2 separate regions of the Homo sapiens genome follow, and region 1 is linked to region 2. Evidence: fine-mapped expression QTL. A gene starts in region 2. The other region holds a variant in brackets. All regions are shown on one strand. Distances are from middle to middle.

Evidence for each region. PIP is the estimated chance that this variant, and not a neighbour inherited with it, causes the effect.
Region 1: its variant is fine-mapped to the expression of TOR3A in aorta (GTEx, PIP 0.94).

The regions. Positions count from the first base shown.
Region 1 is chr1:179,684,090-179,689,324 of GRCh38, reverse strand. All of the region lies in intron 17 of TDRD5 (tudor domain containing 5), which reads right to left. Among named protein-coding and RNA genes, the nearest start is that of FAM163A, 57 kb to the left of the region's middle. The variant G/A (reference allele first, on the strand shown) is at 2,276.
Region 2 is chr1:179,080,059-179,085,293 of GRCh38, reverse strand. It overlaps TOR3A (torsin family 3 member A), which reads right to left and starts at 3,224. Exons shown (of 6, transcript NM_022371.4): 1 at 2,907-3,224; 2 at 2,241-2,354. The coding sequence starts at 3,165. RefSeq lists silencers at 1,600-1,659, 2,650-2,819, 2,960-3,249.

The DNA.
Region 1 (5,235 bases), 600 kb before region 2:
TGTGGAGTGGACCTCCAGCAAACTCCAACAGACCTGCAGCTGAGGGTCCTGACTGTTAGAAGGAAAACTAACAAACAGAAAGGACATCCACACCAAAACCCCATCTGTACATCACCATCATCAAAGACCAAAGGTAGATAAAACTACAAAGATGGGGAGAAACCAGAGCAGAAAAGCTGAAAATTCTAAAAATCAGAGCTCCTCTTCTCCTCCAAAGGAACGCAGCTCCTCACCAGCAATGGAACAAAGCTGGATGGAGAATGACTTTGACGAGTTGAGAGAAGATGGCTTCAGATGATCGGTAATAACAAACTTCTCTGAGCTAAAGGAGGATGTTCGAACCCATAGCAAAGAAGCTAAAAACCTTGAAAAAAGATTAGATGAATGGCTAACTAGAATAAACATCATAGAGAAGACCTTAAAGACTTGATGGAGCTGAAAACCATGGTATGAGAACTGCGTGATGCATGCACAAGCTTCAGTAGCTGATTCGATCAACTGGAAGAAAGGGTATCAGTGACTGAAGATCAAATGAATGAAATGAAGCAAGAAGAGAAGTTTAGAGAAAAAAGAGTAAAAAGAAATGAACAAAGCCTCCAAGAAATATGGGACTATGTGAAAAGACCAAATCTACGTCTGATTGGTGTACCTGAAAGTGATGGGGAGAATGGAACCAAGTTGGAAAACACTCTGCAGGATATTATCCAGGAGAACTTCCCCAACCTAGCAAGGCAGGCCAACATTCAAATTCAGGAAACACAGAGAACACCACAAAGATACTCCTTGAGAAGAGCAACTCCAAGAAACATAATTGTCAGATTCACCAAAGTTGAAATTAAGGAAAAAATGTTAAACGCAGCCAGAGAGAAAGGTCAGGTTACCCACAAAGGGAAGGCCATCAGACTAACAGCGTATCTCTCTGCACAAACTCTACAAACCAGAAGAGAGTGGGGGATAATATTCAACATTCTTAAAGAAAAGAATTTTCAACCCAGAATTTCATATCCAGCCAAACTAAGCTTCATAAGTGAAGGAGAAATAAAATCCTTTACAGACAAGCAAATGCTGAGAGATTTTGTCACCACCAGGCCTGCTTTACAACAGCTCCTGAAGGAAGCACTAAACATGGAAAGGAACAACTGGTACCAGCCACTGCAAAAACGTGCCAAATTGTAAAGACCATCAATGCTAGGAAGAAACTGCATCAACTAACGGGCAAAATAACCAGCTAACATCATAATGACAGGATCAAATTCACACATAACAATATTAACCTTAAATGTAAATGGGCTAAATGCTCCAATTAAAAGACACAGACTAGCAAATTGGATAAAGAATAAAGACTCATCAGTGTGCTGTATTCATGAGACCCATCTCATGTGCAGAGACACACATAGGCTCAAAATAAAGGGATGGAGGAAGAACTACCAAGCAAATGGAAAAAAAAAAAAAAGCAGGGGTTGCAATCCTAGTCTCTGATAAAACAGACTTTAAACCAACAAAGATCAAAAGAGACAAAGAAGGCCATTACATAATGGTAAAGGGATCAATTCAACAAGAAGAGCTAACTATCCTAAATATATATGCACCCAATACAGGAGCACCCAGATTCATAAAGCAAGTCCTTAGAGACCTACAAAGAGACTTAGACTCCCACACAATAATAATGGGAGACTTTAACACCCCACTGTCAACATTAGACAGATCAATGAGACAGAAAGTTAACAAGGATATCCAGGAATTGAACTCAGCTCTGCAACAAGCAGACCTAATAGACATCTACAGAACTCTCCACTCCAAATCAACAGAATGTATGTTCTTCTCAGCACCACATCACACTTATTCCAAAATTGATCACACAGTTGGAAGTAAAGCACTCCTCAGCAAAGGTAAAAGAATAGAAATTATAACAAACTGTGCCTCAGACCACAGTGCAATCAAATTAGAACTCAGGATTAAGAAACTCACTCAAAACCGCTCAACTACATGGAAACTGAACAACTTGCTCCTGAATGACTACTGGGTACATAACAAAATGAAGGCAGAAATAAAGATGTTCTTTGAAACCAATGAGAACAAAGACACAACATACCAGAATCTCTGGGACACATTTAAAGCAGTGTGTAGAGGGAAATTTATAGCACTAAATGCCCACAAGAGAAACCAGGAAAGATCTAAAATTGACACCCTAACATCACAATTAAAAGAACTAGAGAAGCAAGAGCAAACACATTCAAAAGCTAGCAGGAGACAGGAAGTAACTAAGATCAGAGCA[G/A]AACTGAAGGAGATAGAGACACAAAAAACCCTTCAAAAAATCAATGAATCCAGGAGCTGGTTTTTTGAAAAGATTAACAAAGGAGATAGAACACTAGCAAGACTAATAAAGAACAAAAGAGAGAAGAATCAAATAGATGCAATAAAAAATGATAAAGGGGCTATCACCACTGATCCCACAGAAATACAAACTACCATCAGAGAATACTGTAAATACCTCTGTGCAAATAAACTAGAAAATCTAGAAGAAATGGATAAATTCCTGGACACATACACCCTCCCAAGACTAAGCCAGGAAGAAGTTGAATCCCTGTATAGACCAATAACAGGCTCTGAAACTGAGGCAATAATTAATAGCCTACCAACCAAAAAAAGTCCAGGACCAGTCAGATTCACAGCCGAATTCTACCAGAGGTACAAAGAGGAGCTGGTACCATTCCTTCTGAAACTATTTCAATCAATAGAAAAAGAGGGAATCCTCCCCAACTCATTTTATGAAGCCAGCATCATCCTGATACCAAAGCCTGGCAGAGACACAACAAAAAAAGAGAATTTTAGACCAATATCCCTGATGAACATGGATGCAAAATCCTCAATAAAATACTGGCAAACCAAATCCAGCAGCACATCAAAAAGCTTATCCACCATGATCAAGTGGGCTTCATCCCTGGAATGCAAGGCTGGTTCAACATATGCAAATCAATAAACGTAATTCCTCATATACACAGAACCAAAGACAAAAACCAAGTGATTATCTCAATAGATGCAGAAAAGGCCTTTGACAAAATTCAACAGCCCTTCATGCTAAAAACTCTCAATAAATTAGGTATTGATGGGATGTATCTCAAAATAATAAGAGCTATTTATGATAAACCCACAGCCAATATCATACTGAATGGGCAAAAACTGGAAGCATTCCCTTTGAAAACTGCCACAAGACAGGGATGCCCTCTCTCACCACTCCTATTCAACATAGTATTGGAAGTTCTGGCCAGGGCAATCAGGCAGGAGAAAGAAAGAAAGGGTATTCAGTTAGGAAAAGAGGAAGTCAAATTGTCCCTGTTTGCAGATGACAAGATTGGATATTTAGAAAACCCCATCATCTTAGCTCAAAATCTCCTTAAGTTGATAAGCAACTTCAGCAAAGTCTCAGGATACAAAATCAATGTGCAAAAATCACAAGCATTACTATACACCAATAACAGACAAACAGAGAGCCAAATCATGAGTGAACTCCCATTCACAATTGCTTCAGAGAGAATAAAATACCTAGGAATCCAATTTACAAGGGATGTGAAGGACCTCTTCAAGGAGAACTACAAACCACTGCTCAACAAAATAAAAGAAGATACAAGCAAATGGAAGAACAATCCATGCTCATGGATAGGAAGAATCAATATCATGAAAACGGCCATACTGCCCAAGGTAATTTATAGAGTCAATGCCATCCCCATCAAACTACCAATGACCTTCTTCACAGAATTGGAAAACACTACTTTAAAGTTCATATGGAACCAAAACAGAGCCCGCATTGCCAAGACAATCCTAAGCCAAAAGAACAAAGCTGGAGGCTTCACGCTACCTGACTTCAAACTATACCAAGGCTACAATAACCAAAACAGCGTGGTACTGGTACCAAAACAGAGATATAGACCAATGGAACAGAACAGAGGCCTCAGAAATAATACCACACATCTATAACCATCTGATCTTAGACAAACCTGACACAAACAAGAAATGGGGAAAGGATTCCCTATTTAATAAATGGTGCTGGGAAAACTGGCTAGCCATATGTAGAAAGCTGAAACTGGATCCCTTCCTTACACCTTATACAAAAACTAATTCAAGATGGATTAAAGACTTAAATATTTGACCTAAAACCATAAAAACCCTAGAAGAAAACCTAGGCAATACCATTCAGGGCATAGGCATGGGCAAGGACTTCATGTCTAAAACACCAAAGCAACGGCAACAAAAGCCAAAATTGACAAATGGGATCTAACTAAACTAAAGAGCTTCTGCACAGCAAAAGAGACTACCATTAGAGTGAACAGGCAACCTACAGAATGGGAGAAAATTTTTGCAATCTACCCATCTGACAAAGGGCTAATATCCAGAGTCTACAAAGAACTTAAATAAATTTACAAGAAAAAATCAACCCCATCAAAAAGTGGGCAAAGCATATGAATAGACACTTCTCAAAAGAAGACATCTATGCAGCCAACAGACACATGAAAAAATGTTCAGCATCACTGGCCGTCAGAGAAACGCAAATCAAAACCACAATGAGATAATATCTCATACCAGTTAGAATGGCGATCATTCAAAAGTCAGGAAACAGCAGCTGCTGGAGAGGATTTGGAGAAATAGGAACACTTTTTCACTGCTGGTGGGACTGTAAACTAGTTCAACCATTGTGGAAGACAGTGTGGCGATTCCTCAAGGATCTAGAACTAGAAATACCATTTGACCCAGTCATCCCATCACTGGGTATATACCCAAAGGATTATAAATCCTGCTGCTATAAAGAAACATGCACATGTATGTTTATTGCAGCACTATTCACAATAGCAAAGACTTGGAACCAACCCAAATGTCCATCAATGATAGACTGGATTAAGAAAATGTGGCACATATACACCATGGAATACTATGCAGCCATAAAAAAGGATGAGTTCATGTCCTTTGTAGGGACATGGATGAAGCTGGAAACCATCATTCTGAGCAAACTATTGCAAGGATAGAAAACCAAACACCACATGTTCTCACTCATAGGTGGGAATTGAACAATGAGAACATTTGGACACAGGATGGGGAACATCACACACCGGGGCCTGTTGTGGGGTGTGGGGAGCAGGGAGGGATAGCATTAGGAGATATACCTAATGTAAATGACGAGTTAATGGGTGTAGCACAACAACACGGCACATGTATACATATGTAACAAACCTGCACGCTGTG
Region 2 (5,235 bases):
CACCACCATACCCAGCTAATTTTTGTATTTTTAGTAGAGACGGGTTTCACCAGGTTGGCTAGGCTGGTCTTGAACTCCTGACCTCGAGATCCGCCCACCTCGGCCTCCCAAAGTGCTGGGATTACAGGCGTGAGCCATTGCGCCCAGCCTCAAGGACTACTTTTTGAAGAGTTTGGGAAATCAAGATGGGACTCAGGGAGAGTGGAATCACCCTTCCTAAAGATCCTGCAGATACCCAGAACAGTTGGCACAGACCTGTCTAGGGAGGAACCCTGTCCCCCATGTCCTGAGGCTGCTCCCATCCCTTGGTTTCAGGGCTCCCTGTTTTATGGAGAAGCCTGATTTTATTCATTCTCATTCAATTCAGCCAACACTTGGTGAGAGCAGCTCCAGTGTGCAAAGCCTTCTGCTAGGTCTAACTTCCTCCTGTCAGACGTGAGGTTGTAGGATTTGGAGATGGCGCTACCAGGAGCCACAGTGCAGACAGGCAGGGTGTGCGGCCAGCTGTGGGTGAGCATTCCAAATCCAGGATCAATTGGTTGAACACCTTAAGCCAGCCCAGAGCAGGTATTCTGGAGCCTTGGGAGGTCAAGGTCTATGATAAAACATTGAGGGCATCACACATTGCTCCAAAAGTAGTAGTGACATAGAAGAAAATTAACATTTGCTGCTTTTTTCTCTGTATTCAGAACTGGGCTAAGTGTTTTACATTTGGTCTTCACAATTCTGCAAGGCAGGCATTATTATTCCCATTTAAAGCTGAGGAAACTGGCTGGGCGAGGTGGTTCCCGCCTGTAATCCCAGCACTTGGGGAGGCTGAGGCGGGCGGATCACGAGGTCAGGAGTTCGAGACCAGCCTAGCCAACATGGTGAACCCCCTCTCTACTAAAAATACAAAAATTAGCTGGGCATGGTGGTGGGCACCTATAATCCCAGCCACTCGGGAGGCTGAGGGAAGAGAATCGCTTGAACCTGGGAGGCAGAGTTTGCAGTGAGACGAGATTGCTCCAGCCTAGGTGACAGAGACTGACTTGGTCTCAAAATAAATAAGTAAAAAAAATAAAATAAAATACAGCTGAGGAAACGGACACTTGGGAAGGACTCTTCAGTTTGCCAGCAAGGAAGAGGCACGACTAGGAGGGGTCTCCAATCCGCTGGCCAGAACAATTTGGATATCCAGGCCCTTGTCGAACAAAAGGCATGTTGAGGACAGAAAGTAACTTGCTAATTGCTACCTAGGGTCTTATCCAAGTCAGCAGTGATCCAAATTAAGACTTCCTGACCTGTATGTAGTCCTATCTTCTGTCCTGAGCCAGACTGTGTCCCTAAACACACTGTGTTATTGGCATTTTGGCCAATTAAGTGACCTAAATATCTGGGGTGGGCCTCATTTATGGAGATTGAAGGACCTGGGATCAGGAGAACTCTGGGCAAGAAATTGCTCCTGGGGAAAAGAGAGGAAGCTTTTGCAAATGTCTGAACAGGTTTCAGAACATGGGGCCAAAGATCACCTTGTGAGAGTGAAAATGCAAATCAACTGCGATATGCAAATCAAGCAACCCAAACTAATTAGAAAATACTGGTTGCCATGGCACAGTGGCTCACGCCTGTAATCACAGCACTCTTGGAGGCCAAGGCAGGCAAATCACAAGGTCAGGAGTTCGAGACCGGCCTGGCCAACATGGTGAAACCCGCCCCCCCCCCCCCCCCCCGCCTCTACTAAAAATACAGAAATTAGCCGGACGTGGTGGCAGGCACCTGTAATCCCAGCTACTCGGGAGGCTGAGGCAGGAAAATTGCTTGAACCCAGGAGGCGGAGGGTGCAGTGAGCTGAGATCGCACCACTGCACTCCAGTGTGGGTGACAGAGCAAGCCTCCGTCTCAAAAAAAAAAAAGAAAAGAAAGGGACACTTTTAATCACAACCCAGAATTTCTGATCAGTTCTCTCTGGATAGTTCCAGCCCCCTCTGAGAGGTAGCTGTTTCTGTTTAGAGTGAAACAAGGTGCTCTGGGCCTGACAAACAGCTCAGTTTGCCTGGGCTATTAAGCTAGAGGCTAAAAAGGGGCTTCCCTGACTCAAGCATTTGGTACTCCCTCAAAACTTCAGTCAGACTGTGGCAGTTCCTGCTTGTCGGGAGGCTGGGCAGGATGACGAAAGGTCCCTTGCATCTAACCATTTCCCCTGGACTGCCTCCCCTCCCCACAGATCCCTAGCCCCTTGAAGCCATGCGGGGTCCAACCTGTAAAGTTGTTGGAGATTCTGCAATCCCCTCTAGGGCAGCAGTCTTTGAAGCTGCAGTACCACGTGGTCAGGAGGTCCAGGTACCGCTGGCCCAACAGAGGAAGGCGCCAGCCTGGAAAAGGAGGAGCTGTGAGACCGAGAGGAGACCATCCGGTGCTCTACAGTGATGCGGCAACCTTGCCACACAACTTGTCAGGGACAGAGGGACACCCAGAACTCAGATTCTAACTCCCAGCCCCGACTCGGCCCACTGTCGGTCCTCAAGCCCTGCGTCCAAAAGCAGCAAGGGAGACGGCAGTCACCAGGCATGTCCACAGCGGACGTTCCCTAGAGCTGTCAAGAGCAACACCTTCGAATAACGCCAGGGTGGGCTGGGAGATGGCACAGGCGGTGCGAGAGAATCTGGAAAGCGCAGGGATCAGGGGAGGCGGGGGACGGGAAGCCGGGCGCCAGGGGGGTGCGCAGGGGACGCGGGTGGGGCAAGGGCGGTGATGGGGCTCCCTGCTCCGCGGAGGCTGCCCCCGCCCACAGCCGGTACCGGCGGCTGAGCAGAGCAGGACTGCGGGCCCAGATGTCGCCCCGGACAGGAGCGAGGCGACCACAGCCGCGCCCGGATCGCACTCTGCTCCGCAGCGAACGGCGGACCGTGGGGACGGGGTCTTACCCAGGGGCCCCGTGGCTGCCTCCTCGTCCTCGTCACAGTCGTCGGGCCACACCTGGCAGCTGAAGAGCGTCCAGTACCGCTTGGAGAGGGCACCCGCCGCCCTGAGCTGCTCCTGCAGGCGCTGGAAGCCCGGCCAGGCCCAGGCCGAGCCCGGCTCGTCGGTTCCCTCCCACGGCCTGGAGGCGCCGCGGGGCTCAGGCGCGCCCGGGAGCAGCAGCAGGAAAAAGAGCCAAAGCTGGCGCCACGGACCGCGAAGCATGGCCGGCCCCGAGCTGCGGGACCATCCGGCTGCCGGCCTAGCCAGGCTCCCTTAAGCCCGGGGCGGTCAGGCGGGGACCGCACTTCCTAGGCGGGCTTGAACCCGGGATTGGTGTTGCTGTGGCGACCGGCGGGCCGGGCTGAGTGCGCACTGGCAGCCTCCGTACACGTGACCCAGGCGGGAACCCGAAACCCTGTCTGGGGTCCTGAGAGGCAGTCCCGAGACTGACTTCAGGCCAGGTGCAACTAGCCGGCTTCCAGGAAGCAGTTTATTCTGGGTCGTGATTGTGGTTGCAAAGAAGGTGAACTCAGGCTTTGAAATGGCCACTGTCAATCACTCCGCTAGGACTTTCGGACGGCTCTGGTGGCCCATCAGAGGCCTACCGAATAAGGACACTCCTGCTTTGCCTCGCGTTTGCAGATCAACTTCCCGCCAACCTGTTAGAGGAAGCCGGAAAACCGTCTCAGTCAGGAGCGTTAGGCAGGCCAGGGGAGTCAGCTGAGTGGAGAAGAGGCCCTGGAAAGAAGGGCACAGCTAGGTGCCTGTCTGGCCAAGGTTGCCCTGGCTCCTCCGCAGAGGGAAATGAAACCGCAGCAAAACACCAGCAGGTTTCCACAGTGGGAGTCCACGAAAAGCAAGAGGAAGCTGATTGACGGGCTCCAGTCTGGAGGTGTTTGGAGTTTGGAAACCCCCCGAGTCATGGGTAAATCATGAGGCGTCATGTCAATGTAATTATATCTCATAAAAATCCGAAGTACTGTGTGCACTTTCTTGACTAGGTTTGCAACTTTCAAGTGCTGGGACTGAGCAGCCCATCCGACACCATTGGCAAAAGACTACAGGGCCTCTTTCCCTCAGCGCTCTCTTCTCCATAGCGAGGAGCATGGAACAAGGCTGTTAGATTTCAGAAGAGCTTAATGCATTGTTTAAAATCACCTGGCTTACTTCAGCCAAGCCAAAAAGCCGTCTTGTCTTAGGAGAAAACTGCTGTCTAGAGAGATCAGAGGACTTGGCTAATGTCATATGTTTAGTGGCTTTGAGGTTGGGCCCTCCAGACAGTAAGGTGAATACTAGCACCGTGTCTCACAAATGTCACAGGCAACTTGATTCATCTGTTCACCCCAGTCTCTTAGATCACACCGTGCCAGGTCTGCTCCATTCTCAGCAGCTCACCAAATTTGTGCCTTTCATTCGAACAGCTACAGAAACTAGATAAAGCACCTTTGCTAGGACACGAGGTTGAGTTGAAAAGTAAAATGTTTATAGTGTCTCAGCCATTCAGTGTGATGTCAAAAACTTTTCATAGAGTAGCAGCCATGGCACCAGCCCAGCACTGTGTACATCGAGCTTGCGGAGTCCACCGGAGACAGTTAACAGCACATACACCACAGTGCTTATTGGAAAACCAAAAAAAATTAGGCAGGGTGTGGTGGCTCACGCCTGTAATCCTAGCACTTTAGAAGGCCGAGGCGGGCGGATCACCTGAGATCAGGAGTTCGAGACCAGCCTGGCCAACATGGTGAAACCCAGTCTCTACTAAAAATCCAAAAATTAGCTGAGTGTGATGGTGCGCATCTGTAATCCCAGCTACTCAGGAGGCTGAGGCAGGAGAATGGCTTGAACCCAGGGGGCAGAGGTTGCAGTGAGCCAAGATGGTACCACTGCACTCCAGCCTGGGTGACAGAGCAGGGCTCCATCTCAAAAAAAAAAAAAAAAGAAAAAAGAGAAAAGAAAAAAAATTAACTCACTCAACAAATGTCGTTTGAGTCTGAATGGCAGTCTAATATAGTGATTACCATTTTCTATTTGTGCAACCATGGATGTTACTGAACCGTCCCATGCCTGTTTCCTCACCTATAAAAAGGGATAATAAAATAGTCCCCTCATAGGGCTGCTGTGAAGATTAAATGAGCTCATTCAATGAGCACATCATCAACACTCAATACGTGGCCAGTTTTATTTTTGTATCTACCCAGCCATGGAGGAGGCTCTGGGTGGTCTACACAGGAGGCAAGGATGGCTTTAGTTAATACTGGTGGTTTATAAGTGAATTTATGGTGAAAAAATTAA